Homo sapiens: one gene and its partners. The protein of the gene in region 4 purifies or fractionates together with the protein of the main gene of each other region. This does not show direct contact. Each region holds a gene or a part of one and is shown on either strand. Other genes may lie near its edges.

Region 1 (8,406 bases), on a different chromosome or scaffold from region 4:
TTAGGACAGCGCCAATCCCTGTGTCGTAGAACTGCCGTCCATGGAGGGCACTTAGGACAGCGCCAATCCCTGTGTCGTAGAACTGCCGTCCATGGAGGGCACTTAGGACAGCGCCAATCCCTGTGTCGTAGAACTGCCGTGCATGGAGGGCACTTAGGACAGCGCCAATCCCTGTGTCGTAGAACTGCCGTCCATGGAGGGCACTTAGGACAGCGCCAATCCCTGTGTCGTAGAACTGCCGTGCATGGAGGGCACTTAGGACAGCGCCTGACACACACTAAGCACCAGCAAGTGGCGGGCCACTCATGGGACTTAAAATGAATGAAAACGCAGTGGATTCACCAGGAAGAGACGTGGGGAAGACATTCTGCAGCTTGATCGGGGAAACGCACCCATACGTAAAAAGTCCATGTCGATTGGGAGCATGTCAACATATATTACAGGCTCCAAAAGGTTAGCTGAATTTACCAAAACCCATGATGGAAAAGCACTGGGCTGAGCGCAGTGGCTCATGCCTGTAATCCCAACACTCTGGGAGACTGAGGTGAGCGGATCACTTGAGGTCAGGCGTCGGAGACCAACCTGACCAACATGGTGAAACCCACCCTCTACTAAAAATACAAAAATTAGCCAGACATGGTGGCAGGTGCCTGTAATCCCAGCTGCTCGGGAGGCTGAAGCAGGAGAATTGCTTGAACCCTAGAGGCGGAGGATGCAGTAAGCCGAGATCGTGCCACTGCATTCCAGCCTGGGTGACAGAGCGAGACTGTCTCAAAACAACAACAACAACAAAAAGAAAAGCACTGGAGGCCAGTGAGGGACCTAGCCCAAGTCCTGCCTGACACAGATGTGCCTCCGTCTGGGGCTCCACATCGCCTGCCCTGAAGAGCTGACTCAGTTCCTAAAGGGCTCCTCGAACAGTGAGTACCCGCCAGCAGAACCCCACCTCCTCCATGTCCCAGGCCTGAGACACAGCCGCACCCTGACAGGGCATCAGACAAGCCCTCCCTCAAATCCCATTCATCAGCTACAAGGGTCAGCCAACTATAGCCTGTGGGCTGACAGGGCCCATCACCTGGTTTTGCACATCCTGCAAGCTTTCTAAAGGGAGACCATTCTGTGGCCTGTGAGAAGCACAGGAAAGCCCAACCTCAGCAGCCACGCGTGTCGAGGTGTGCCGGCACACAGCCAGGCCCACGCACGCAGACACCGTCCGGCTGCTTTCACACACAGTGACATGGTCGCCAACCCCTGGTCTGCTATGTTACCTACCAATTACAGATGATGTTCAACACAGCTATGGGGAATGGCCCAGAACACAAGATTCAAGGCAAACACTAGGAGACAAAAACAAGTGAATACCCAGGTGCCAGACCCCACAGCAGCAGCTTTGCTGCCAACCGTCGACACACAGCAGCCCCGACGGGCACAGACTGAGCCCTCCAAGGTCCCACAGCCGCAACGCAGGCACGAGGTCCAGGCCACAAGCCCCTCGCTTCCCCAGCACCTTTGGTCTGATCCTGGCTCTGCCACGTACAAGCTGTGTGTCCTCAGCAGGTGACAGCTCATTCTCCCGGCCCTAGGCACCTTCTCTACCAGCAGGAGAGCACCCCACTCACAGAGACTTAGGGGAAGCAGGGAAAAGGCACCTATCTTCCACAGTACTTACACAACTTCCTAAGCCACTCCAGCTGGGCTGAAGGGATGGACAGGCCATGGGAACAGGACTGGGGGAGAAAGGGGCCCTTAATGGATCCCCCACTCACCAGGCACATAGACGGAGGGGTTCTCTGACATGCCAGGAAGCGGCTGGTAGTCGTGAGGCCTGCGGATCTTTAGTGACTGGCCCTGGAAGATGATGCCATCAAAGGCCATAGCCTGGGTAGTCTCGTCCACTGAGCGGAACTGAATGAAAGAGAAAGGAGTGGTGAGGGATGGGGGTCAGGGACTAGTACAGCCCCTAGTGTTCCAGGATTGGGATTTCCTCTTTCCTTTCACTCATGTGAACAAATACAACATGCCAGGCCCCAGGCTGGGCACTGGGAGTACAACAGACACGCATGTCCCTGCTGCCAGGAGCTCACACTCGACCATTAAAAACACCAGGCACCCAACACAAACACAGAGGCAAACACACAATTGCAGGCTGTGATGACACGGAAGAGGGACAAAGTGCTGAAAAGGGATGTTACGGGAAAGGTTAGTTGAACGGGGAGATGACAGTACTGGAGTCTTTCTGGTGAGGGGGACATTTCAGCCCATCTCCGGAGCAATGCAACTGCAAGTGGACTGCAGTGAGGCAAAGACAGAGTGAGAGGGACAGAGTGAGAGGGAGTGCTCAGACAGTGAGAGGGAGTGCTCAGAAATCTCTGCAGTAAGCTAACACTGCCCACACCTTCACAATACTTCATGAGAGTTATCAGTCCACCAAGAGTCGAAAATCAAAAACCAAGGCCTTTTCCCGACAGTTGAGAAACACAGACACAGAAGACTAGTTAGGAACATCAGTTAGCTGGGGTAACAGAAGACTAGTTAGGAACATCAGTTAGCTGGTGTAAAGAACTCTAGCCAAGCAGGCAGGAGCATGGTAGGTTCTGGGAAGGTCAGTGTGGCCAGAGTGCAGAGAGGACTGGGCCGGAATGGTCTGGAAAAGGCCAAAGAGGTCTACAGAGGCCAAACAGGCCTCTCAGGTCACACAGAAAGCAAATGGAAGGCAGAAAGTAGGATCAGATCTGTAATGCTATAACAGGGCTCACTTCAGCGACCGGGTGGAGAAGAGGCTGCAGAGGGCCTGGTGGAAACAGCACAAGGCAGCTCCACACAACATCAGCCTAAGGGCTGGGCCCTCACATCACACACGTTTCCTGGACCTCACTCACTCCCCCAGCTCACCTCCAAAAAGGCAAAATTCTTGTCCTGGTTAATCTGCACAGCCAACACTGGGTTGCCAGGGGCCTGGGTCAGCCCCCCCAGGCGCATCTGGGCGTTGAAGAAATCCATCATGGCCTCCTGCAGAGGGAATAGGAGACAAGGGGGGGGGCGGGGGAAGGGAGGTGGAGAGAGGAGGGGAAGGGTGAGAGAGGGAGACACAGAGGGGTTTGGGGGTAAGGGGAGAGGGATGAGGGGAGGGAGGAGGGGGGGAAGGAACAGTGGAATATGGGTGGGGGTGTAGAAGTCAATAGTAAGAACAGAAGCAAGAGAGAAAATGGGGAGGAAGCAGTAGCAAGAGACGGCCAAGGGCAGGCGATGGACAGGCGTTGGGGGACAGCCACAGGGGCCCCAAAAAATCAGGGGAAAGGAGAAGATTGTTCAAGAAAAGGCAGAGGGCATGATGACAACACAAAATGAAGAAAAACACGAAACACAAGAGATGAAGAGACAGAGCACACAGGAAGGGCCACCCAGTGGAGACAGACAGAAAAGTGGCAGGAAAGTAGAAAGGAAGTGGCAGGCAGGGGCAGAGACGAGCAAAGGACAGAAAGGGAGAGCAGGACAGAGACGAGCGAGGAGGAGGAAGTCAAGAGTGCAGGGGCAGGAGAGGAGGAGTGTAGGGAGGAGGGGCAGGGACGGGAGGGGAGGAGAAAAGAGTGATGTGGAGGAATCTGGCCCTGGAGTCCGGGGGCTGGTTTATCAAATGTAGCAAAGTGCAGGTTGAGAAAGTCAGAATGGACCTTACTTGCCTTCGACGATGGTAGCAAACTTTTTGTTGCTACGAGGGATCTCAGCCCCACAATATTTCACTTTAAAGAGAAATGGAAACAACTCTTTGATCTCGGGATTCTCAGGGGGTGCCACAGGAAGGGGTTGGGGAGAGGGGAGAGGGAAAAGGAGTGGTGGGGAAGGGGGAGGTCAGGGGCGATCAAAAATAAAAGAACAGCGACCATGGGAGGGACGTGGGGGAGAGGATAGGGGACAGGCGGCAGAGAACGAGAGGCGTGTCAGAAAAAAACTGAGGGGCAGCGTGCGTCTGTGTGTGTGTGTGTGTGTGTGTGTGTGTGTGTGTGTGTGTGTCCAAGTCTCCCTCTCTGTCTCTCTCCGACACGTAGGTACAACACGTGGGTACATTATGTGTGTGCTTGATCCCTGGGTTGCTGGAGGAGGTTGGGGGGAGGGGAGACGGGAGAGGGGAAGAGGAGGGAGGGAGGGCCACCCCCAGCCCGGCCCCTGGCTGGCTCAACTCCATCGGTCCGTCTGGGAGGGGGCCGGGGGGTCTTGCAGGAGCAGAGTCTGACCCGTGCAGGTTGGGGAAAGGGAATGGAGGGAAGGGGAGGAACGGGGTAGAGGGACAAGGGAGAGGGTAGGGGGCAGGGGAGGGCAGTACCTCAGTGATGCCAAAGGGGATGTTGCCCACGTAGAGGCGCCGGGCTTGTCTGGTCATCTGGCTCCCGACCACGGGCACCGGCGTTGGGGTCACAGCCAGACCGTCAGGGGTCATGGTGGGGAGAAGAGCAGTGGCTGGAATCTGACCCGCAGCTTCAAAGGGAATAAAAGCCGGATAAAACCCCATCAGGGGAATGCTCAGTGACCACCCCTCACCACACACTGGGAGTTCCCCTCCTCAGCAGAAAGCTCCTACAGGCTCTCGGTCTTAGCACCTTCCAGAACCCTCTTTCCACCCTCGGGGCCCCCACCCAGTAACTGCTGCTCCTCAGAAGCCTCACTTCCTAATGGCGTCCAGATGGAGGCCTCATTCCCCTGTCAACCACGGGTGTCTCTGGTCATTTCCTCCTCTAGGGAGGCTTCAAAAGCGCAGAGACCAGAACCCCCAGGGGTGTGCAACCCTCTACCTGTGTCTTTGACCCCCTCCAAGCACACACGCAGGGGAATGACTGACGGAGAATCCCAACCCCTGTACCCTCCCGCTCTGGGAGCAGCCTGGCCAGGGGCCTACCTTGCATGGCCTTGTACTGCATTGGGGTGATGTGCTCAAAGCCTGGGGGTGGCACGTCCCAGTATTTACGGACCTTCTTCTTCTTCTCGTGGCGGGGGGAACGACTGGGGGAGGTGGGAGGGGAGAGCGGGGCAGGGCAACCTCAGTCTGACCAACAGTGGGCCTGCGAGCCCCCTCCCAGGCACCCTTTCACCCTCCCCGCAACCATGTAAGCTCCACTCTCTCCAGGGAAGGAGAGGGTCTGGGGCAGGGCCTGGGAAAGGGGTGCTGGTTTCAAGGTAAGTGGACTCTTCCCAGTGCTTGGGCCAGGGCTGGAAATGGGCGGGACAGGGTGCACGGGCGTGAGGAAGGTGAAGGGAGTGGACATCAGGGAGGAAGGGGCAGGAAGAGAAGCTCACATCAGTCCACCGTGCTCCTCTTTAGCGCCTCTGGTCAAAGGTTTGCTGGGGGGTGGGAGGGAAAGGTATGGGGAGGGGTGACTGGGGACCCTCGTCTTCCCCACATGCCACACCCCCCCAAGGGCACTGAGCCCCAGGGTGGGAGCAGGGCCGAGGTCAACAAGCAGCAAGCAGGCCACCCTCGGCCCTGCCATTTCCCCCCAAACACTCCCACCCCCAGGAAAGAGGAAGTGAGGAAAGGAGAAAGGGGCCAGGGGCCAGGAAGGACCAGTCTCTAGCTGGAGAAACTGAGCCGGGAGGAGGCAGGAGGACTTCCGCCTATCCTGCCCTTCCTCACCTAAGGAGGCAGAGAACAGAAAGGGGAGCCTAGAAGGGAAGAGGCGGTGGAAACCGACACCCCTGGGCCAAAAAGTCAGCCCAGGCTGTGGATACTGCCTCGGTCCCAAGAGCTCCCTTCTCCTGGGAGGCAGGGAAGAAAGAAACTGGAGGCAGAGACCAACCCCCTCGAAGAGAGTCCCACAGAGAGCCACAGAGAGTCGAAAAGAAGGAACAGGCCCTCAGAGTCAGAGACAGAGAACAACCCCTTGTGAAGGAAAACACAGAATCAATTCCCAGGCTCCAGATAAAGAGCCTATTGCCCCCAGCAACCCACCAGCAACCACCAAGACAGAAAATGAAAGAAACCCCAGAAACGGGGGAAAAAATCGGAATCCAAGACAGACCAAGCAGTAGATCCCTCCCCCAGATCCACACAAAGAACGAACGAGCCACACAGGGCCCGGACCCAGACACAGACACACACAGGCCACCCACAGGCCGGCCAACACCGACCCCCCGACTCCCAGGCTGGCCCAGGGGATCCCTGAGCCCTAGTACCTGCGTCGTCGCCTGTCCCGGGAGGCGCTCCGCTGGTCCCGGTTGCGCCGGTCGCGGCTCCGGCTCCGGCGTTTGCGGTCCCGGCTCCGAGAGCGGCTGTGGCTGCGCTTCCGATGCCGGTTCTCCTTGTCCCGCTCTGGGCAAGGGTGAGAGGAGGGGCACGGGATAAGCGGAGTAAGGATGCGGGCCCAGCCCACCCTGCGCGCTGGTGGCTATGTCCCAAGCCCCAGGGAGGCCACCCCCAAAGGGAAGGGATTCAATGGAGGAAGGGAATTAACAGGCCTCCTGGGTCCACAAGCGAGTCCAGGGACCATGAGGGGACCAGGGGGACGGGGCCTGGAAATGCCCCCGGGGTGTAAGATACCTGAGGATGCTCAGGAGGAGCTGGGGAGCCAGAGAAGACAGAGGAGGCTGGCTCCTGGTCCCCCTCGAGGGCTGAGGGGCCTGACCCCAGGGTCGTCCCTGAGAGGGGCAGGGCTAGAGGCTGGGGAATCAAGAGACCCAATGATGTTTTCCTGAAGGGACCCAGCGACCCCTCAGGAAAGACCTCTGCAACTAGCTGGCACCCACAGCCCCACCATCAGGACTAGGGGTCAGGTGCCAGGCAGGATCTGATATCCCCAGGAAGCAGGGAAACTCAACCCATCCCTTCCCAAGCCGGTGAATAATGCAGAAGCAAGCACCCTTCCCAGGGGAAGAGAAGGGCCTCGGAGAATCTGCAGACTGAAGGGGAAAGAGGCCCTCCTCTCCTTCAGCAGGTCAGGGGAGGAGCTTGCCCCATCCAGACTTGAATCCCAAACCACTTGAATCTCTCAGCCTCACTCCCTTCAAAGCCAAGTACTGAAGAGACTGTAAAGGCGTGAGTAGGGGCGGGTATCTCTGCCAGCCTCCAGCAGGCTCCCTCAACCCTCTATTTGCCTGAGGTAGCCACTAGGAACGGAGCCTCACTGGCAAAACCACAGAAACCTCTGCTCTCACCAGACCCTTCAACCCCTGAAGAGAGACCGGCCCTTCAAGATGGAGGATAAACCATGAGCATGGGGGGGCGGGGGGGTTCATGAGCACCGCCACACCATTTCCTTAATTCAAAGACACCCAGATTTCTCAGCTAGCCATGAAGCACACACACAAAACAGATGCACACGTTAAGGTGCTTATATATGTTAACACGCATCTCCTGGAGTGATCATCCCTGGGGACAAGAGGAGGAAAGGGCACTGAGGGAGGATGTTAAACTTCAGCCTCACCCACAGTGTTTTGTCTCACGTTTTTGCGATGCAATGTGAATGTCTGGAAAAGCATCACAATTCCAAAACCACCAACACTCAGAAAAATATGCACCCAGCAGGGAAAAAAACAGCAACAAATATTGAGATGCTTCCTACAACCGGAATCTGTACTAAATTGTTTTGTTTGTTCTTAATCCTCACTACTGCTTCGGAAAAACACTGCTGGGGGCTGACATAATGGGTAAGGAAACTAAGGTATAGAGAGATCACAATTACCAAGGTCAAACAGCTAGGAAATGGTGACACCAGAATTTAAACACTCTGACATCAGTGAGTTAAGCACGAGGCCATACTCTCGAATGTGGATCAGGCAGAACACTCAGGTCTGGCTAGAACCATTAATGACAATATAATTGTCCCCTTGAAGGCCAAAAACCCCAAAATCAAAAACTGAAATTGGGAGGAACAATCGGCAGGACAGGCCAGCAGTGTAGAGCAGCGGGCACACAGGCACGGCACTGGGCACAGCTCCTCGCTTATAAGATGGACAGGCTGTGAGCCCCAAGAGCCCTTTCTGCTGCTAAGGCTCTGAAACAGGCAAGCAGGCAGACAGGAACCCACGCAGAGAAAGCAATGATGCCCGCTGGGTGCCTGGGATATAGACAAGGAAATTCCCTGTAGATACAGGTAGCAGAGGAAAGGACTGAAGCAGAAGGCGACACGTACAGAAGCTGGCCCGTCCTCCGCAGAGACAAAGACTACAGGCAGTGACACGCGGGCAGAGCTTCCCCTATGGCAAGAACCCTCTCCCACACACTGATGCTGGACAGGTAAAAACAATGAGAGCTTCGTTTGCTCAAAACACTGTATTGTGGTCATCTTATGGGAGCAGCTCCGCCAACCCAGGAGCCGTGCCAGGTCTCAGGGACTGCCCTACCAGCACCAAAAGGGAAACCCCGGGAGAACCGGTGAAGCACCATCTGAGAGCCTCAAAGAACCGCCCAATCAGCTC
Region 2 (8,406 bases), on a different chromosome or scaffold from region 4:
CTAAAATTGGTGAAGAGATGCAGGCCTTCTTATAAATAATCACTCCACATGTTCTAAAATCGTAGCTAAGTGAAGTAACTATTTGCAATTATGTTACTGAATAATTTAAGGAGGCAATATTATAAAACGAGGGTCCCTACTGATCAGTCAAAAGGATTTGCCAGACAGCAAATCTTCGAAAGTAAAAATTAAGGCAAACACTGAGACAGCATACCAAGGTAAGTAACTGTTCGAAGTGATAAATGCACCTTGGAAAATGAGAAAGACAAAGCTGCCTCCACATTAATTAGCTTGTGTAATTTCAAGTCTGATCAAATAATAACTTTATGCTAGTTTTTCCTTAAACAGAAATATTGCTGTATGCTAATAACTGTGGGAAAATGAAATCTGCAATGTTCGGAACATGTTTATTATCCAGCTTTGTGTTCTGAACCCATCTTAGCTCATTCCAGTCCAAGAATCCTAACACATGATTACCTTGATTGCTTCTACATCCCCTGGAGATGGCCCACCTTTCTTTTTGTCAGTTGGCAAACCAGCACCTGGATTAAAACTTAAGAGGGGGAAGAACATAACTGTTAGACCTAGACCAACAGAAGTTGCTTCTCTTTTACTTTCAAAAGCTTTTGAAAGTAATTCAACCAGTGTAGTATCTTATCTTTGTTAACAAACTGATACAAGAACTCTCTCCTTCAGAAACACCATCCAGTTCATCTTCCTATATAGAAAATAGGATGTACATGGTATCACATGAAGACTGACTACTGAAATATTTGCTCTGCTAAGCTGGTAGAAATTTCTTGTGATGTGTGGACCATTGATGTACATGGACTATAAGCACTCAAATTTAATACCACATTAATATGTCAGAGTTTTTGGTTAATTTTGTAGGAGACGAACTGCCAGACAGATCAGATCATGTTTCTGAAGGTGAAGTAGAGTTAAGTTGGATATCCGTGTCTTACGTTTTGCTTCTCCTGGCAATATCCTTTGCAAGCTGTGCACCCCGTTTGCCCTTGAACATTTTCTCTGCTTCCTGACGCTCCTACAGCGACACCACACACAGAGTTAATGGAAATAGGAATACCACATGCATTTAGATGCATTCCTCAGAAGACATGGAAGCGAACTCTCCTACAGTACTCCGGGCTGGTGAAAATACCAAAAAGCAATTTCAAATTAAGAGAAGACACAGTGGTCTTCTTTCTTTGGTAGAGCTCCCTGAAGAAAGTTCATTCTCCTAGCTCCAAGGAGGGGATCCCAGGGAACTAAGAAGGCAATTAAATGAATAATAAAATAATGAATTCCTAATAAAGGGAAAAATCATCCTAACACACGGAGCTGCACGAAAGTAGGTTACATTAAGTTCTCCGCTGGGAACGTATCTAGGCAGACAATCCACTGTTAAGACTGCTCACCGTGGCCTCAGCACTTTGCGAACTTCGGAATAGCCAGCATTACATAAGAGAGCTCCAACTTAAAAGTTCTATCATAAACTCTGCTATTAGAAAAAAATGTGATGTAACATTTTCCCTCCCACTTTTATTACAAACTAATGGTAAAATTTACTCATTTAGACAATTTTAATAATCAGTAACAAAAATATAAAGAAAAACACACAACTCTATAATGGCTCACAAGCAACAGATTACTACTTACTTTTAGTTTCACTTTCTGGAAATCCAGTACTCTGACTTGCGGAACTTTATAAATCACATACAATCTGTAATGCTTCTTATTGGTTACCGGATTTCTTAGGATACTACAAGAAAAGGAATGACACAATGGCAAACTTGTTCATGGCACAGCACTCAAGAGGTCTGTTTGAATAGTCTAAGGAACCTATAAATCAAGGGAACATTCACATTCTTCACATTGCAACATTGTAACAATTTAACATTAAGGAAATATATTCAATCTTTCTTTGTAAAAGGCACTTTTTTTTTAAATTATACTTTTAAGTTCTAGGGTACATGTGCACAACTTGCAGGTTTGTTACATATGTATACATGTGCCATGTTGGTGGGCTGCACCCATTAACTTGTCATTTACATTAGGTATATCTCCTAATGCTTTCCCTCCCCCCTTTCCCCACCCCACAACAGGCCCCGGTGTGTGATGTTCCCCTTCCTGTGTCCAAGTGTTCTCATTGTTCAATTCTCACCTACGAGTGAGAACATGGGGTGTTTGGTTTTTTGTCCTTGCGATAGTTTGCTGAGAATGATGGTTTCCAGCTTCATCCATGTCCCTACAGAGGACATGAACTCATCCTTTTTTATGGCTGCATAGTATTCCATGGTGCATATGTGCCACATTTTTTAATTATCTGATTACATTAAGGTCAAGGCTGGTAAAAGTAATGTTATTTTAAAGGGCTTCATTTTGTCACAATATGTAATTCCCATACCTTAGGTAAGTCAGCGATTTGAGAGATGCCAGAGGGTCCAGATCACCCTGTCAAGCAATAGCCACAGGTAAGAACGCGAATACCACACGCTATTTTGAGATTCTGAAATGGAGAGTGCTTTTGAAGCAAGTTGTCTTTTCATTATTTACTGAATTTTTACTCTCTAGCAACAAGCCCAATACTAGCACATCACAAATGTTTAAATAATTTCTACCGATGAATACATGGGAGCTTCTTAAAATCTTGGCATTAACAGCTTCTGTCTCAATAGCAGGAGATAAGAAATTGCTTTCCTACAGGAATCTCAAAGTGGCTGCTGAGCCATGATTTGGAAAAGAAAACAATGGCAAAGCTGATGGGACTCTGGAGCAACCTATTCACACTGGGAACTGCAAGCCAGAATCTTGGTGTAAGTGGGCTTTCCTGCTAGCGCCAGCTTCAGCGTCTAAGAACAACAAAGGTATACTGTCTTTTGAAAGAAGGTACATTTATCCTAGCTGCCCCTGAAAATCTCTTTAAATAAAATTTGCAGGGACAAGGAATAGTATAGCTTAAAAATGATCGAATTAATGGAAAGAAGGCAGGGTGATTTTTTTTTTTTTTTTTTTTGAGACGGAGTCTCGCTCTGTTGCCCAGGCTGGAGTACAGTGGCGTGATCTTGGCTCACTGCAAGCTCCGCCTCCCGAATTCATGCCATTCTCCTGCCTCAGCCTCCCAAGTAGCTGGGACTACAGGCGCCCACCACCATGCCCGGCTAATTTTTTTTGCATTTTTAGTAGAGACGGGGTTTCACTGTATTAGCCACGATGGTCTCGATCTCCTGACCTCGTGATCTGCCTGCCTCGGCCTCCCAAAGAGCTGGGATTACAGGCGTGAGCCACCACGCCCAGTGGGCAGGGTGAATTTTTAATCTTCTCCAATTGTTCCATAAAACATAGTGCAATAAGGATAGCAAAAAAACAAAAACCTATGGTTACCAGCTACAACCAAGCTAGATGGCAAGGCATTCTGCAGTAACTCTAAAATAGGAACAAGTAGAGACAACCCATGTTGAGAGCAACAAGGCTTGCAGGGTGACGGCCTTTGTACAGGAAGAAGCAGAGGGGAGGCGAGGAGCCGTCTTACAAACTGGAGAACTCCAGTGACTGAGAAAAGCAGGCCCAAGACCAGCATGTTCCAATAATGACTACAGGGGTCTGTGATAAGGGCTGCAGGGGCAAGAGCAATTTGGGCCCTCACTCTTAATAGAAATCATGTCCCAACACGGCCCTGCCCTGAAGAGAAACTGCTGGAACAGGCGCAAATTGGGTAGATGGTGGGGAAGGGGTGTGTGTGTGCAAGAGGCACAATGAGAAAAAAAAGTACAGATAAAAACAGGGAGAGCAGAGCCAGAAATTCTCAAAAAGCAAGCTGCCATCTTCAAATATGTCACAAAAACCACCAGAGGGAGCTCTAGAGCTTGATACTGTTTTACCCCCACTGAAGATGATCCAAAAAGGAATAAAGAACAAAGTGGTAACATTTGTTACATACACAGTGTAAAACGTAATGGCGATGTAGTGATGGGCTTCAAAAAAGAATAAATATGTAACAACCCGAAGGCTGCTGAAATGTTGAAGGTCACTGTACTGTATTGTTTAGCAGGGTAAAGGTGTCAAAGTTTAAAATTAAATGTTGAAGGTCATGGTACAGTGATCTTAACATTTAATTTTAAACTTTTATAAATATGTGTGTTTTAATTCCTACGATGCTAACTCAAGATTGAAAGAGAGTAATTTCTAAACCATCAGAAGAAAAAATGGAATGACAGAAGGAGAGCATCTACAATAAAGGAGAGAAAACGGATTGAAGAACGGGTGGGACAGACAGGAAGCCCCAGAACAGAGAGAAGACAAACTGGAACACACCAGTAATTACATTAAATGTAAACAGACTAAATATAAATAATTCACTTAAAAGAGCTTTCAGACTGGATTGTAAAAAATTCCAACCAGAGCTGGGCGCGGTGACTCACGCCTATAATCCCAGCACTTTGGGAGGCCAAGGCGGGTGGATCACAAGGTCAGGAGTTCGAGACCAGCCTGACCAACATGGTGAAACTTCGTCTCTACTAAAAAAAAAAAAAATACAAAAATTAGCCAGATGTGATGGCGCCCACCTGTAATCCCAGCTACTCGGGAGGCTGAGGCAGCAGGAGAATCACTTGAACCCAGGAGGCAGAGGTTGCAGTGAGCCGAGATCTCGCCACTGCACTCCAGCCACTCCATCTCAAAAAAAAAAAAAAAAAATTCAACCATACAGTTTTTAAGAGAGAAATCTAAACTACAAGAGGTACAGACAAGCTGAAAGTAAATTTTGGATGGAAAACGATTTATCATGCATATAACTAACCAAAACAAAGATTGTTTCGAGGTAAAAGAAACCTCAAGGTAAACAGCATTAATAGAGATCGAGGGTCACAACATAATAAAAAGTTTCCGTTCACCAGAAAGATATGAATAATTTAAAATTTGTATGTATCAAATAAGGCAACTTCAAAATATACAAAACTAAAATCGACAGAACTTCAGGGATAGTCAAATCCACTACCATGCTGTGAGATTCTAACATACCTCTCTCAATAACTGATAAGCCCAGTAGTCTTCATCTTTGCAAAGAGCTTTAAATACAACTCTAATTTCTCTAACAGCACCTATCATGAGACACATTGCCTATAAATATGTATTTCGGGTTGAATACTTCACACACTTCAGAAAGGACATGGCCATGGACCAGTGCTGTCTTATGTTTGTAGTCAAGCATCTCCTTGAGAATCTGAAGGATGCTATGGACCTTGTCCACAAGGAAAGGAACACAGTTCATTCTCAACAATCAGGAAAATACGGGAGGAAGGTTAAGTCACAAAATTAAGTTATACGATTTTTTTTTTTTTTTGAGATGAGGTCTTGCACTATTGCCCAGACTGGAGTACAGAGACATGATCATGTCTCACTGCAGCCTCGACTGATGGCTAGGGCTCAAGTGATCCTCCCACTTTAGCCACTGGAATACCTGGGACCACAGATGCACGCTACCACTTTTGGCATTTTTTTTTTTTTTTTTTTTGAGACGGAGTCTCTTTCTTTGCCCAGGCTGGAGTGCAGTGGCATGATCTCAGCTCATTGCAACCTCTGCCTCCTGGGTTCAAGCAATCCTCCTGTCTCAGCCTCCCAAGAAGCTGGGATTACAGGAACCCACCACCACGCCCGGCTAATTTTTGTATTTTTAGTAGAGACGGGGTTTCACCATATTGCCCAGGCTGGTCTTGAACTCCTGACCTCGTGATCCACCCGCCTCGGCCTCCCAAAGTGCTGGGATTACAGGCATGAGCCACTGCACCCGGCTTTTCTAAAAAAATTACTTATAGAGAGAGACAAGGTCTCACTATGTTGCCCAGGCTGGTCTAGAACTCCTGGGCTCAAGTGATCCTCCCACCTTGGCTTCCCAAAGTGCTTGGATTACAGGCATGAGCTATGGCACCTGGCCTACAATATAAATTTAAGCATCCAGTGTTTAAGTGAAGAATTTAGGTTACAAAACAATACACAGTATCTCAATTATGTTAAAAATTGGATACACAGAACAGAAATTTAAAAAGCATGAAAACAGTTCCAAGTGGATTGTTCATCTAACGTGAAGAGTAAAACAAGGTTTCTAGACTGGAACTGTTCAGCAAGATTTAATGCATATCAGATATGTAATCTAAAATTTTCTAGTAGCCATGTTAAAATAGGTGAAACTAATTTTAATAATATGCCATTTAACTTATTATCCAAAACGTTATCATTTCAACATCGATATAAAAAAATTACTGAGATAGTTTACTTTTTTTTTTTTTTGCACTTAAGTCTTTGAAATCCAGTGTGTATTTTATAGTTCTAGCACATCTCAATTATAAGTAGCCACCTGTAGTTACTGGTACTATATTGAACACTGCAATTGTAGAAAACAACATAGGAGTTTATAACCCTGGAATAGGGGAAATTTAAACATCAAAAGGGCTACAATAAAGAAGAAGATTGATTCATTGGACTGCACCTAAATTAGGAACTTCTCTAACAAGACATCCTAAGTCAAAAGTCAAGTAAAAGTAGGAAAATATTTGCAACATACGGCTGCAGAACCCAAAAGGCCCAGATCCTGAATTAAGAAAAAGACAAGAAAGAGGATACTGAGATCATTTTCTAGATTTTGTAAATTTTCTGTAGGAAGCACATAGTACCTTTAACCCCACCCACCAAATACATTTTCCTTCTGTGCAACTTACCAGTTCCACGAGACTATTATTGGTGAGAATGAGTTCTGTCAGACAGGGCAGAGCCTGATCAAGTCCCTCACCTATACGGCTAAAATAAAAATAGAGTCTTAGTAAAAGTGAAAATTAAATAAGCTAACAATTTTATCTACCTCCTTGCTCAGAGGATCACAGAGAGACACTTAGAGATCCTTCTTCCAACACCCTGATAAAGAGGAAACAAAGCAAAAAGAACCCTTTTCTGAGGCCACAGGGTCAGCAACAGAAGTGGGATTTTAGACACTGCCTGGGGCTAATTCCACTGTCATACCATCTAGTGGAACCTGAGAAAAGGTGCAACTCCTGGGTGGCACAAACTACTTAACTCACTTCATGATTTTTTGTGCAGGCAGCACAGAAATACAAATAATTCTGGATTCCCAGCTCAGGTACAAGACACAACAACTATACTATAGGGGAATGGTTAACCTATGAGAAATATTTCTATCTGAAGGAAATCCCACTCACCACCCAGTACCTTTAAAGACATTATCTATACACCAAGTGCTTTTTTTCCAATAAAGTTTACACAGAGCTGATGAAGGCAGGGTCAAAAAAGATCTCAATTTCAATAAGTAACAGTCTAGAAATTAGTTGCAGTTAAAAAAAAAAAAAAGCAGAGACGCTCAGTCAAAAGTATAATTGTTACCTTTATATATCCTTTTACTATGACCCCTTTGATAATTGTTTTAGAAGCCAAAATGTATACAAAGCAACATGTTTTTATTTAGAAACTTAACCATGAAAATAAAAATACATGATTTCTGAACAGATACAAGTAAGACTAGACTAATGCCAGGTTAATCTCTGGATCTCTATAGGAAAAGTGAAGTTCATTTCTCATTTTAAGAAAAAACATGTATTGAATGTGGCTTCCATTATGGAAAAAATATTTTTTCAAAATATAAATAAAAAAGAAAAAGAAAAAGAAAAAGAAACATGTAGGTTTAACCAGTAGCACGTGCTACAACTTCTTCAGGAAACACTGCAACATTTACTCTAGGGGAAAAAATTACTTTCCCCTACAGACACGTACCATATTCTGTTGTTGTTCACTAACAATGTTTTCAGTCTTCTCAACAAAGGAAAACCATCCAGTTTCCTGATCTCATTGTCAGAAAAATCAATAGCATCAAACTGGTCTAACGTAGCACCTAGATTTTCAATGACGGGAATTTTATACCCTATAAAATGGAGGAAAAAAACACAAGAGGTATTAATATAACTAAACAGTTGCCCCTTAAAGCATTAGCTGTATTTCATAGTATCTGACTCCAGGCTTTGATTTATTCAGGAAGTATTACCTAGCACCTATGTCGGGTCACGCATGACTTGCCGCTGTTTAAGATACTAGAGAGAAAACGCTGAACGAGTCTCAAGTCCCCAGTGCCATGAAGCTTAGAATCTGATGACAACAAGGACAAGGACAATAACAATGGCTGATATAGGCAGCTAACATTTATAAGAACATTTACAAGGTGCCTCACACTGTCCTAAGTCGTTTGGGCTAGTTAAGCGGAATCGGCACAACAGGAGTTTACACTTGGAGCTGCTTAGTCTCAGTGCCCAAACGGCGTTCAAACATTGTGGACGACAGTTCTCCACTCTTGCATCTCCACAGGCCAGATTCTTAGAACCCATCAGAACAGCCTCAACATATCACGAC
Region 3 (8,406 bases), on a different chromosome or scaffold from region 4:
CTAAGTCATCAAGTTTGTACAGTATCCTATCAATAACTTTCACAAGTAAATGACGCTCTTGATCCTCAAGTGTAGGAGACATCAGCAGAGGAAGAATCTGATTAAACAAAGGACCAGCTCCAAATTCACGAGCTTTATCAGTAATCTGACGCAATGCAGCCTGGGAAAAAGAGCAGAGTAATAGGTGTGGTTTCTTTATAATCAAACATTTTGAATGAGCAAATTACTCAAAGAAGATTTTCCATACTTTAATATTTTAGTGTTTACTTTTACACACATTTTACATAGACAGCATGAGTTCATTTCCATCCAAATTACTCTGGAATTTCAATTCCTGTGATAGAAATTTTATGTTAACTCAAAAGAGTAATTTAATAGAACGAACCACAGAGGTATGTACTAAATGCCTTCATTTCCCTGAAGTATCTTCCATTTCCAAGGCACATATAGTGTTAACATAATCCCTCACATAATTTCACTAATTATCTTCAAGCTTTAAGCATATTTTAAAGGCCTTAAGAACAAAAAGGAGAATCTCATTTTTCAGCATTTTTATTAGCTTTTTTAACCAAAGAATTTTGTGCTAACTCCAGCTGGGCACGGTGGCTCACACCTGTAATCCCAACACTTTCGGAGACTGAGGCAGGAGGATCTCTTGAGCCCAGGAGTATTTAAATAATAATAAAAACAAACGGCTGGGCATGGTGGTTCACACCTGTAATCCCAGCACTTTGGGAGACCGAGGCAGGTTAATCATTTGAGGCCAGGAGTTCAAGACCAGCTTGGCCAACATGGTGAAACCCCGTTTCTACTAAAAATACAGAAATTAGCAGGGCGTGGTGGTGCACGCCTGTAGTCCCAGCTACTTGGAAGGCTGAGGCACAATTGCTTGAACCCAAGAGGCGGAGGTTGCAGTGAGCCAAGACTACACCACTGCACTCCAGCCTGGGCAAGAGAGCAAGACCCTGTCTCAAAAATATATATATAATATTAATAATAAAAACAAGCAAAAAAGTTAAATCCTTCACACTACATAAATTTTTTCCCCTCATGCTATGTCCTTGATAAAGATGAAGACAGTAATTATAAATTCCTAAACACAAAAATATAACACTACCAAAAGTTAATTTTTTATGGGGAAGGCTTTCTAAATAACCTTTACCAATTTGGGCTATTTGGGAGAGTAAAGGAAAGACCACACTCCACAGCGGGCTATACCAATAGTTCACTACTATTTTGTGGTCTACATTTCCTGGTGAAAAAATTAAAAACATTTTTAAAAATATAAACATGGCCAGGTGCAGAGCCTCACACCTGTAATCCCAGCACTTTGGGAGGTAGGCCAAAGCAGGAGGATCACTTGAGACCAGCCTGGGCAACATGGCAAAACCCTGTCTCTACAAAAACTACAAATTTTTTTTAATTAAATAAATAAGCAACAAACATGACAATTTAACAAACTGGGACTTACCTTTCTCATTGGTGGTGTTCCATTCTTAATTTTTAAAAGCAACTTCATTATTTTTCTCTCTTTTTGCTCTTCTGGACTAAGTGTTGATTCATCAACATCAACCTATAGTAAAAAGAAAAAAATGTTAAGGGAAGTTGAAATGTTATGATTTATAATTCTGGAACACAATTAATAGTTTATTTCTGCTAGTATCACTTACCAATAGTTTATCAAAGTATTGAATATCATCAGGTTTTAAAAATGGAAGATTTCCAGATGGCTGGTCATTAACACTTTTCATAGTTCGATCTTCAGTTTGCATGTGGAAACCAGTCATACCACCCAAAGGTGTTGGAGTAGCTGTCAGCTTTCGAGCTGGAGTTCGAATAGGAACATAACCAGCTGGAGGAGGAAGTACCTAATAAAAGTTATAAGACAGTTTAGGATTTTCTTAACTTAAAAAACAGCATAATGAACAATATTTGCACTTAAAATATTTTAGTTTATTAGCTAATAAGGTTTTTATTTGCTTGGAGACAACATCTATCTTGCTTTTCTATCTTAATTAGAAACTTAAAATATATACTTCTCATCCACTAACTGATTATATCCGTGGTGTAGGGAACTGAGGAAACACAAGAGAAGAGCTTAGAAAATACTAATCACATTCAAACATGTTGTGGGTCAAAATGTCAAATTATTAAAAATTTGAAAATTATAAAATCTGAGTCAGCAATTCCAAAAAATGCTGTAGTCGAGCAAATAATGTTTCATAAGATTTATATAAAATGGAAATAAGCTCATATGGGGCATAAAACATAAAAAATTATATTTTAGTATTAAAATGTCACATAAATTCTTGCACTACAAAATCTTTTAAGTGTAAAACTCTACAAAAATTAGTTAAATGCATAAAAACTAAAACCAAAATGTTTGCCAAAGCCCTATAAAATACACACCACCTGATCAAACCTTTTGCAAAACGAGTAAAATTTCAAAAAATGCAGGCTGAAAATCACAAAGAAATTTTTTTTTTTTTTTTTAAAGCTGGTAACAGACTTCAAAAAAAAAAAACAACTTCTGGACAGGCCAGGATTACAGCACTTTGGGAGGCTGAGATGGGAGGAACGCTTGAGCCCAGGAGTTTGAGACCAGCCTTGGCAACATGGCAAGACCCCATCTCTATTTTATATAATTTAATATATAGTAAAAGAAAAAAAATACAACTTCTTGGAGAGGTCAATAAACCTATACACGTCTTCTCCAGTGAGCCTAAAATTGTTTTGTCTATTAAAGATTAAATTATGTTAAATTTATATTGATGCTATCTGTACTTTGCACAGATATTTTTTGTTGCTAGTTAACGTCTGCACCAGCACAGACCACTAAGCATTTTGGATAAAGTGGATACTCTAAAGATGTGAGGCCTAGAGAAATCAATGTCAAGTCCACAGGCATCACTTGCCATTAAGGATTTAAAGGTCTACTATATTTTTATATTCACTAGTAAGGACGTTGCTTATTAGTAGGATTCACTAAGGGAGACTTTTCCTCCTAGTGACACTAAGGAAATCAATGACTACGACTGAGAAAGACATGCAGGCAGTCAACAGTAAGTTCTGTCTATCTATACCCACAGTTCTATCTATACCCACAGCATTATGTGGAGGCTACAAAAAGCTTTAAGGCAAAACTTCATGCAAACTTGAAACAAATACTCTAACACAAATAACAGGGGATCAAAAACAAAACAAGGCTGGACACAGTGGCTCATGCCTATAATCCCCAGCAGTGTGGGAGGCCAATGTGGGTACTTTGAGCCTAGGAGTTTGAGACCAGCCTGGCAACACAGTGAGACTCCCGTATCTACAAAAAATAAAAAAATTAGCCAGGTATGGTAGTGCATGCCTGTAGCCCCAGCTACTCAGGAGGCTGAGGCAGGAGGATCACTTGAGCCCAGGAGTCCAAGGCTGCAGTGAGCTATGTCAGCGCCACTGCTCTCCAGTACGGGCAACACAGTGAGACCCTGTCTCTAAAACAAAACAAAACAACAAAAAACATACTCATGAACTGTTAAAAATCAATAGTCATTAACAGAAAAAGCTCTGTAAAGGCCATCAGATGACTTACAAAGTTATCTGGTTCCCCCTGGTTATGATGTCAGCTATACGACCACAGACTATCTTCAGACTAACAAATACTCCCTGAGTACCAGGTACCTAGAAAATTTTATAGTTCAAAATAAATTTTAGGTTGATATGATAAAAAGGCCAGGCACGGTAACTCACGCCTGTAATCCCAGCACTTTGGGAGGCTGAGAGGGACGGATCACTTGAGGTCAGGAGTTCAAGATCAGCCTGGCCAGCATGGCGAAACCCTGTCTCTACTAGAAATACAAAGATGAGCCGGGCATGGTGGTGGACACCTGTAATCCCAGGTACCTGGGAAACTCAGGCAAGAGAATCGCTTAAACCTGGGAGGCGGAGGTTGCAATGAGCCGAAATCACGCCACTGCACTTCAGCCTGGGCAACAGAGTGAGACTCCATCTTTTAAAAAAAAAAAAAAAAAAAAATTCTTTGTGTCCACTGACAATCCATAAACTTAAGTATATAAAATCTTGGTGAAGCACCAAGTAAAATAACCACAATCTCAACGAGCTTATTCCTGGGACTGCTAGAAAACTGAAGCACCAGCAGTTCTCAAAGTATAACCGATAGACCCATACACAAGTCTTTGAGATGTCTTTCAAAAAGTAATAAAAGTTTCATGTTGTTCATTTCTTTTCATCTCTATATGGAACTGAAATATACCTGGAAATAGCTAAGAGAATGGAATGACAATAGTAAATTTGGGCAAAGCCAATGCAAGCTTAATCAATTTTTTTCACTATTTAAAATAAATGTATATCCTAAATACCACCTCATTCAAATTTGATGTACTACCTTATATCCTTCTGGGAACATAGCATCTAATTCCTCATCAGAAAGTGGGCGATTTCTCTCATCAATTTCTCTTTCCCACCGCCAAGCCTGAAGCTGTTCAGGAGTCATACTCATTATGTGACCTACCAAGAAAAGCAAATTTTTATATAATCTATAGTACAAGACTGTATTATTACATACATTGAGATAAAAGACAGTTAAGATCAATCCTATTATTTGCTTTTATATTATAAACGCAAACCAAGACTTAAATTTGTATATCTCCTTATTCTTACTAGAAGTTGACATTAATAGTACACAGAATACCACAAAGGAAAAAATTAAATAATTTATGGAGAAAAAAACAATTATGTCCAATGAGACAGTTCTACCTGGAGTAGGGGTAGCCATGTTCATGGCTGGTGTGCCAATTGGTGTCTTTCCAGGGGTCAGAACTGGAGTGCTTCCACCCATCTGACTAGCTGGTGTTTCATCCCACCGTGATTTTCTTTTACTGGCTCCAGGAGTCGGTGTTTCACCAATAGAATCTCCACCTCGATCTGTTCGAGGAGTCTCAGCCCATCCACTTCCATGCCCAGGAGTATCTTTAAAAAGAAAGAGTGAGTAAAACCACAATTTTAATCACTGTTAAAATAATATTCTTTATTCTCAAACAGTTATACTCAAAACTATCAAGTTCTAAAATAGAATATTCCTAAAATGGTGACCCATTTAAAGTTGTTTGAGACCAGCCTGATCAACATGATGAAACTCTGTCTCTACTAAAAATACAAAAAGTAGCCAGGTGTGGTGGTGGGCGCTTGTAATCCCAGCTACTCAGGAGGCTGAAGCAAAAGAATCACTTGAACTGGGGAGGCAGAGGTTGCAGTCAGCCGAGAGCGCACCACTGCACTCTAGCTTGGGTGACAGAGCAAGACTCCATCTCAACAACAACAACAAAAAAAGTAAATTTGATGTTATGTACATTTTTCCATAATAAAAAACAAAGGGTAAGTCAGGCACAGTGGTTCATGCCTGTAATTCCAACACTTTGGCAGATCACTTGAAACCAGGAGTTCAACACCAGGCTGGGCAATGAAGCAAGACATTGTCTCTACAAAAAATTTAAAAATTAGCCAGGGGCCGGAAGCGGTGGCTCATGCCTGTAATCCCAGCATTTCAGAAGGCCGAGGGGGGCAGATCATCTGAGGTCGGGAGTTCGAGACCCGCCTGACCAGCATAGAGAAACCCCGTCTCTACTAAAAATACAAAATTAGCCGGGCTTGGTGGCGCATGCCTGTAATCCCAGCTACTCAGGAAGGCTGAGGCAGGAGAATCGCCTGAATCCGGGAGGTGGAGGTTGCAGTGAGCTGAGATCGCGCCATTGCATTCCAGTCTGGACAACAAGAGCAAAACTCCATCTCAAAAAAAAAAAATTAGCCAGGCATGGTGGCATGCCCCTATAGTCTCAGCTACTAAGAAGGCTGAGGTGGGAAGATCACTTGAGCCTAGGATGTCAAGGCTACAGTGAGCAAGACCCTATCTCTAAAGAAACACACAAAATCAAAGGTTACAGCCTACTAACTTTACTTTTACCTAAGGTTCTTCCTTAAATCTTAAACCACTTCAAGAAGTGGAAAAAATTAGGCATATGAACTGTTCTATTCTTAATCTGTCCCCCAAAAGCAGCTGGTTATTTATACGTGTCCACCCAGGAATAAACAGAACACATTTCAGTCTGTAAACATATCACTCAACATTTCACCCACACACCCATACTCCACTAGAAGTACCTCTCTCTGTTTTGGGGGTTTCATCCCATCTGTTTTTACGAGCACTGGAAGTTGCGCCTCCATGGCCTGGTGTCGCATGGCCTGGTGTATCACCTCGTCCAGGAGTAGCAGCTCCCGCTGGTGTGTGGCTAGGTGTAGGATCCCATATTTTTGAGCCTGGGGTTGCTCCAGGAGTCTCGCTTCCCTTTGCACGACCTGGTGTCTCATCCCATCTTAAGGAAGGAGTATGCCCAGGGGTCTTAAAAAAGCAAAAAAATTTTATTTCACACACCCACACAGAAATAATTAGAAAATTTCCATAAAATAAAAAACTTTAAACGAAAAATGTTTTAGTTCTATGCACTATAATTAATGAAAAGTTAGAAGACACTACCTCTACTTATAGGAAAAGATACCTACTTTCTAGCAAATGTTTATGATTAAAAACAATGTAAAGTTTCAATCCGAAGCACTGACAAAAGTCCCAGCTTAAAAAAACAAAATATTATCGATATGAATCTTTGATATGCCATTAATAGCTCTGTGACTGGGGGAAATCACTGAGGTTTCTCTATCTAGATCAGTAATCGAAGGCTTTCAGCTCTAATTACATTAGTACTTCTCAAAGTGGGGCTTAGAGACACATATTTAGGGGAGAAGGAATTCGTGTGTTCTAAGAAAATAGTCCTGTTGATGTTTTGTTTAATTGTGTGTGTTTAATTAATATAAACATGCTTTAGATCACCTATGTAATTTTTTTTTTTTTTTTTTTTTTGAGACAGAGTCTCGCTCTGTCACCCAGGCTGGAGTGCCGGGGCATGATCTTGGCTCACAGCAACCTCTGCCTCCCGGGTTCAAGTGATTCTCCAGCCTCAGCCTCCTGAGTAGCTGGGGTTACAGGTGCCTGCCACCACGCCGGGCTAATTTTTGTATTTTTAGTAGAAACAGGGTTTCTCCACGTTGGTCAGGCTGGTCTCGAACTCCTGACCTCGTGATCCACCCACCTTGGCCTCCCAAAGTGCTGGGATTACAGGCGTGAGCCACCGCACCAGGCCCCACCTATGTAATTATAACCAGATACCGTCACATGATTTCAATCTTGAGATCAGTTTGTATGTACAGTTACATGTGTACCAAATAATATTACCCTAGCTGATGCTGGCAAGATTAATGAAAAAAGATGAGAGGTGGATTTTCATTTGTTTTTTGACACAGGGTCTCACTCTGTCGCCCAGGTTGAGTGCAGTGGCACAATCACGGCTCACTGCAGTCTCCACCTACCAAGCTCAAGTGATCCTCCCATGTCAGCCTCCTGAGTAGCTGAGACTACATACAGGCGCACACCACCACACCCAGTTAATTTTTTATTTCTTGGAGAGATAAGAGTCTTACTATGCTGCCCAGGCTGAGAGGTGGGTTTAAGTAACATCAAGGGTTCCACAGTAGTTCAAACAGAGAGTAATAGTTGGACAACTGACTGCATGTAATAGCAAAAGAATCTCCACCAATAAAGATAGTATCATATCAAAGTAGCATAGAGTTGAGTGTAAAGAAAACAAAATTTGTACTTATATACTGCCTCGTAAGTATTCCACAGGATGTGTAATGTACTTTATATATTTGTTTTAAAGTTGGGAGCTCTTGGCCGGGTGCGGTGGCTCACACCCGTAATCCCAGCACTTTGAGAGGCCGAGGCGGGCGGATCACAAGGTCAGGAGATAGAGACCATCCTGGCTAACATGGTGAAACCCCGTCTCTACTAATACAAAAAAAATCAGCCAGGCGTTGTAGCGGGTGCCTGTAGTCCCAGCTACTCGGGAGGCTGAGGCAGGAGAATGGTGTGAACCCGGGAGGCAGAGTTTGCAGTGAGCCGAGATAGCACCACTGCACTCCAGGCTGAGCGACAGAGTGAGACCCCGTCTCAAAAAAAAAAAGAAAAAAAGTTGGGAAAGTTGGGAGCTCTTATAGACACAAGGACTTCATCTACCTTTATGTTTGCAAATTTGCATGGTACCATTAAACAAGTTTAAGACTCAATAGTTTTTCCCTTAAAAACATACTACTCAGGGCTGGGCATGGTGGTTCATGCCTGTAATCCCAGCACTTTGGGAGGCCAGGCAGGCAGATCAATTGAGGCCAGGAGTTGAGACCAGCCTGGCCAACATGGCAAAAGCCCATCTCTACTAAAAATAAAAAATAAAAATAAATAAAAATAGCTGGGTGTGGTGGTGCACACCTGTAATTCCAGCTACTCAGGAGGGT
Region 4 (5,626 bases):
CGGGAAAGGGCTCTTCCAAGTCTTTCTTCGGTTACTCTGTCTGCAGGTAGCAGCTGCTCCCTACATCTGCCATTCCTGTATTATTTAGAGATGTCTTTGTCCCTCTTAGTAGTTAACTCCCTACTACTGGTCAGTAATCTTCATATTGAGTCTTCCTTGTTCAAATTACTGGTTTGCTTTCTTTCTCCTGAACAGATCCTAAACCCTGAATGATACCATAATTATTTGTAAGATTTAAAAGACGATGTATATTTTCTAAATCACTAAGAAAATTAAAACCAAGAAATTACAGTCCATTTACAGACATCAGTGAGAAAGTGTAAGACATGATTACAGAAGACTAAAGTCATTAATTAGCATGAAAAACAAAACAGACCCTATTAAAAGCCAAAGACTCTCCAAATGGTTTGAAATACAAAATTCAACAAGATATGCTGTTTAAGAGACAACTAAAAATTATATATGAAAGTTGAAAATAAAAGGATAGACAATTTATCATGCAAATATAAGCAAAGAAAGAAGAGAAATTCTAATAAAGAAAGTAAAATTCCAGGCAAAAGGCATAAACAAAACAAAAAGGATAGCTTTAGGCCATGAAGTCTTCCTTATGAATTGTATGTAACAGACACAAGTATTCTATACTAAATAACACTATCAAAATATACAAAGCAAAAGCTCTAGAGAAACAAATGAAATTGAGAGAAACAACTATAATCAGAGACTTTAAGAAAACACTATTCTAGGGTATCTATAACAACAATAAGAACATTAAATTTGAATAAATTGGTTGAATGAATACACATTCACCTCTGTCCTATATAAACTAAATAAATCTTCATTTATAACATCCATAGAACACTTTTTAAAGATGCTAGGCCCCCAAACCTCAATAAACAGAAACTACATAAACCACATTTTTTTCCCACAAGGTAAAAATCCCACAACTAGCAAAAAAAAAAAAAAAAAAAATTTAAGCCAACCATACAGATATTTTGAAAAACTTAATTATTGAACCAGAAATTTAAAACACAATGATATACTACTTAGAAAACAAGACTACTACATATCAAAATGGCTGGGATGTGAACATATTTGAACTCAAAGGACAGTTCAAAAGTCTTCAACACATTCATTTGTATACAAGCAAAAAATAAGCATCAGTCTCAAAAAGTCAAAAAACTACAGAAAACAAAATAATAAGCCTAAATTGAGAAATTAACATATTTTAAAACAAAATCACAATAGATAAGCCAATAAAAACACTAGTTTTCTGAACAGAAAATGTATACCCTTAACAAGTCTAGTCAAGTAAAAAGTGGTAGAATTAAGAGAAGGTAAATTTCCTATAACTTAGAAATGGCAAAGTTAATAGAAAAGAAATTGCTATTAGAATTTTCTGCTAACAACAGATGTTTAAATTTGAACAAAATAAAAATATTTCTTAAAAAGTATACATTACCTAAATTTACTAAATAAACATAAAAGGAAGAATATATTTTAAAAACAATTTTTTTAATTTAAAGTTGCTTAAATTTAAAAATAGGTAACATAATAGTCACAAAAGAAACTGACAGTTATAAAGAAATTATTTCCAGAAAGCACTGTGAACTCAAAAGTTCTGTAAGTACAGACTTTCAACCTTTCATGAACAAATCATTCCCATGTTATAACTGCTTAATGCACAGAAAAAGATATACAGTTATCCTATTTACTTTAGAGAGCTAGCAAAATCCCAATATCAAAATACAATAACCAGGCTGGGCATGGTGGCTCACACCTGTAATTCTAGCACTTTGGGAGGCCGAGGTAGGTGGATCACCTGAGGTCAGGAATTCAAGACCAGCCTGGCCAACATAGCAAAACCCCATCTCTACTAAAAACACAAAAATTAGCCAGGTGCGGTGGCACATGCCTGTAGTCCCAGCTACTTGGAAGGCTGAGGCAGAGAATCACTCGAGCCCAGGAGGCAGAGGTTGCAGTGGGCCAAGATTGCACTACTGCACTCCAGCCTGGGTGAGAGAGCAAGACTCCATCTCAAAAAAAAAAAAAAAAAAGTACAATAGCCCAAAAGACCAATCTCACTAATGTAAAAATGTAAATTTCCTAAATAAAAGATTAGTAAATCAAATTCAAATGCATTTCTAGGGAGGATGCATGGTTGGCCAACATTAAGTCTGCAGTCACTGTAGTGTAGTTTTTCTTTGATGTCGTTTTTTATTAGACAGCATTATGTCTCTAATATTTCAAAAAGGACTCTCCCTTGTGGTGGTTTCTTTCAGCTTTTTATCACATTTTATTTCTATCCCAAAGTTACTGAGACTTTAACATGCTTAACACAAGTTTTAACAATACCTTAATGAATGCCTTAACAACCAATACCTTAGTGAACAATACCAATGTGAATGTTATTTTTATTATTATTTTTTAATAGAGACAGGGTCTCACTATGTTACCCAGGCTAATCTTGAACTCCTGAGCTCAAATGATCCTCCCACCTTGGCCTCCCAAAGTGCTAGGATTACAGGCATGACTCACCACCCCTGGCCTCAGTGTGAATGTTAAAATAGTCACCAAAATCGCTGTATGGTGCTGGTAAAGAATCCTGGGCTTTACAGGATACTGACAAAGGATAACAGTGTGTCTGTTCACCATTTCAAGTGGCACCACTACCTGGCAAATGCATATGCAGTTTACAATGTGCCAGTTTTGAAATTTTGTAATTCCTGCCGATTTTTTTAGGCTATAAGTATGTGAATTACTTCAAATTTTGAAAACAAAGTGAGCCTTTATTAATATTAGATCAACTTTTAAATCCATATAATTCAAGTCTACAAAAAGTGCAAATAAACTATAAATCCTTTAAAATTTCTTTTAAAAATTAATCTACCTGATTCCAGGAGTGCAAAGATGATTTAATGTGGGAAAATCTATTAATATACCTCATCAAAACATCAAATGAGAACAATTATATGAATGCTTTAATAGATGCCCAAATGGTATACTGTTTAAAGTTCCAGAGCCATTTCTAATTCAAACTCTTTAAAAACTAAAAGAGAGACACTGTCTTTCAGATAAAGACTATCTAACTCCCAACAGCAAACTTAAAACTATGGACATTCCCATTAAAATAAGAAAAAAAAATGTCTAACATCATTATTGTTAACATTGTCCTAAACATTTCAGATAACAAAACATGCAATAAAAGTGAAATAAAACTATCAGAAGAAACACTATCATTATTCACTGATGATACTGAAGTTTTTCCTAGAAAACCCAGAACTTACTGAAAAAAGTATTTGAATTAAGTGACTACACACCAGGAAAATATCAATTTATCGTCTGATAAGACTATTAAGTATATACCTATCATGTCTCTCCACATATCTCCACTACTATTACCTGGACTCTAGTTAGAATCACTATTATTTTTTTGTCTGGATCACTGCATCAGGCTCCTAATTGGACTGGCTTCCCTATCTCCAGCCTGGTGAGATTTTACACACTAAGGAGATAGTGATGTTTCTAAAACCAAATCTGATCATGTCATTCCTTTGCTTAGATCTTCTCATCGATTCTTATCATATTTAAAGTAAGATCCAAATTCCTTATTATAGCCTTATTTATGTGGCTCTATACAACGAGGTCTTATATACAGAAATGCCATTCTTGACACTCTAGCTGCATTGTCCTTTTTGTTCCTCAAACATACAAAAGAGGCTTTATGTTTGCTATTCACTCCACCTAGGATGTTCTTTCCTTGAATCTCACAAGGATAGCCCATTCTAAAATGTCAATCACATGTTATCTTAAATGTTACTTCTTTAAGAGGTCTCTTTGGCCGTGCAGCTTATAGTGGTACGGTGCGGCACAGTGCAGTGGTATAGTGGTGAGCATAGCTGCCTTCCAAGAGGTCTCTTTGATCGTCCAGTCTAAAATAGCCACTCATTCACTATCTCATAATCACCCTACTTTAATTTCCTCCACAGAATCTAAAACTCATGGTCTGATACTTTCCCTGGACATACTTAGTATCTCCTCCCCACTAATGTCACCTCCATGAGAGCAAGAACTCTGTCTTAATAACTGCTTATCTCCCAACACTTAAGTGTCTGACACATAAGAATCACCAAATAAACATTTGGATTTTAATTGTCTGTCATTCTCAAAAGACTATAAGCTCTACTAAACAAGAACTAGGCCTATTTTGTTTGTTGTTCTCTCTCTAAGACTCTGGCACAGGGTATACATTCAATATCGAATGAATGAATGAATCCCTTCCCTTCCTATAGTCCCTAGTATTCTAAGACTGGGCAAACGTTTTTGGTGATGTCAAAACATTGCTAGTCTATAATGAGCTTGTAGCCAACTGATACTGTAACTAAATCAATTTATATGAATTATATAAAATTAAATATCTCCACCTCTATCCATTCCCCAAATTCTACACTGATGTAACTGACTTCTTAGGCTAAACATAGAGCTTTAAGTTTGATGGCCTTCTTGAAATTAACTTTTAAAATGCCTTTGTCAAAAAATACTTATAAGAAAATAATGGGGCAAGGAAGTTAAATCTTTTAAGCCCTGACCCATAAATTATTTAAGTAGCTGGCAGACAAGAGACCTTCTTTAAAGTGATATTAACAAAAAAAAAATTTGAGGTACTAAAAAGTTAATCTAACTTGTCAGTGTATACAGAAATGACCACTCTTTGCTGAAACTAACAAAGCCACAAAGAACTGCCTCTTAAGTGTTTAAGATACTGCATCACCATTTTGATTACCCAAGAGTTACTCATTAAATATGACACAGAGTACATAGCTGCTGGTTTGCAGGCACTCTTAAGTATCTAATTACTTCAAACAAAAGGCTACATTCTCAATTTTTTATATTTTGTTTTTATTCAAGAGTTACTCACAGGCAGCACTTTAAAATTAGGCTTTTTAAATTAAAGGCCAAAACTAAAAAAGTTTGCAAATATGACATTACTAAAAGAATGATAGCCTTAATAATTTAAACTCTAAAATGTCCGTCCTGTGGAGTTAAGGTCTTTATACACAGAATGTGTAAGATCGATATCATTTAAAATAAACAACTGAAAAACCACAGATGGTGGGTAAATTTGTCAATGAAGATAAACATCAGTTTCAGCCTTCTAGAGTATGAAAACCGGCAATTAATTAATCCTGTGACAGAATATAAACTGTACTTCAGAATTTTGACTTTAAAGTCTCTTTCTCCAGCAGCAAATCAGCATATCTATGTTGAAGTTCCTTTTCTCTTTCTTGTTGTCGCTGAACGTCTTCTTTTAGACACTTAAAGAAAAAAAATTAAGTAATTATTTTAGATGTAACTATACTGAAAAAAATCTACAGTACTTTATTATCTTAAAAACCAGCTGAGTTAAATCATGATTCTTAAGAGTTAAATATTTCTCAAAGAGAAACAAACATATCAAATACTTTTGCTATAAAACCAGTATCACAGCCATTCTTTGATTTGGTCATATGAAATCCTGCTGCTACTTCAAATAAACAAACCACTACTGTCTTATCAATACCCACAAATGCACTTCAAGAAGCCCTGACTGCCCTTTAGCTGGACAGGAGCTATTATGCACATTTGGGAG

The links.
Region 1: the proteins of CDC5L (region 4) and U2AF2 purify together in Homo sapiens (affinity purification with mass spectrometry; 5 studies listed by BioGRID and IntAct, with this or other methods). This does not show direct contact.
Region 2: the proteins of CDC5L (region 4) and SNRPA1 purify together in Homo sapiens (affinity purification with mass spectrometry; 6 studies listed by BioGRID and IntAct, with this or other methods). This does not show direct contact.
Region 3: the proteins of CDC5L (region 4) and SF3B1 purify together in Homo sapiens (affinity purification with mass spectrometry; 5 studies listed by BioGRID and IntAct, with this or other methods). This does not show direct contact.

The regions. Positions count from the first base shown.
Region 1 is NC_000019.10:55,657,105-55,665,510, reverse strand, and holds part of U2AF2 (splicing factor U2AF 65 kDa subunit), read right to left. Parts: intron 6,650-8,406; exon of another isoform or gene 6,530-6,649; intron 6,302-6,529; coding exon 6,166-6,301; intron 5,335-6,165; coding exon 5,290-5,334; intron 4,996-5,289; coding exon 4,892-4,995; intron 4,474-4,891; coding exon 4,322-4,473; intron 3,741-4,321; exon of another isoform or gene 3,681-3,740; intron 3,010-3,680; coding exon 2,893-3,009; intron 1,906-2,892; coding exon 1,767-1,905; intron 1-1,766. UniProt on the Homo sapiens protein: Plays a role in pre-mRNA splicing and 3'-end processing. By recruiting PRPF19 and the PRP19C/Prp19 complex/NTC/Nineteen complex to the RNA polymerase II C-terminal domain (CTD), and thereby pre-mRNA, may couple transcription to splicing.
Region 2 is NC_000015.10:101,285,249-101,293,654, forward strand, and holds part of SNRPA1 (U2 small nuclear ribonucleoprotein A'), read right to left. Parts: intron 7,925-8,406; coding exon 7,777-7,924; intron 6,793-7,776; coding exon 6,714-6,792; intron 2,455-6,713; coding exon 2,408-2,454; intron 1,763-2,407; coding exon 1,660-1,762; intron 1,046-1,659; coding exon 966-1,045; intron 554-965; coding exon 478-553; intron 1-477. UniProt on the Homo sapiens protein: Involved in pre-mRNA splicing as component of the spliceosome. Associated with sn-RNP U2, where it contributes to the binding of stem loop IV of U2 snRNA.
Region 3 is NC_000002.12:197,403,605-197,412,010, forward strand, and holds part of SF3B1 (splicing factor 3B subunit 1), read right to left. Parts: intron 6,404-8,406; coding exon 6,166-6,403; intron 4,978-6,165; coding exon 4,765-4,977; intron 4,516-4,764; coding exon 4,394-4,515; intron 1,869-4,393; coding exon 1,671-1,868; intron 1,574-1,670; coding exon 1,472-1,573; intron 1,251-1,471; exon of another isoform or gene 1,114-1,250; intron 161-1,113; coding exon 1-160. UniProt on the Homo sapiens protein: Component of the 17S U2 SnRNP complex of the spliceosome, a large ribonucleoprotein complex that removes introns from transcribed pre-mRNAs.
Region 4 is NC_000006.12:44,446,293-44,451,918, reverse strand, and holds the end of CDC5L (cell division cycle 5-like protein), read right to left. Parts: intron 5,313-5,626; coding exon 5,208-5,312; 3' UTR 1,494-5,207; downstream 1-1,493.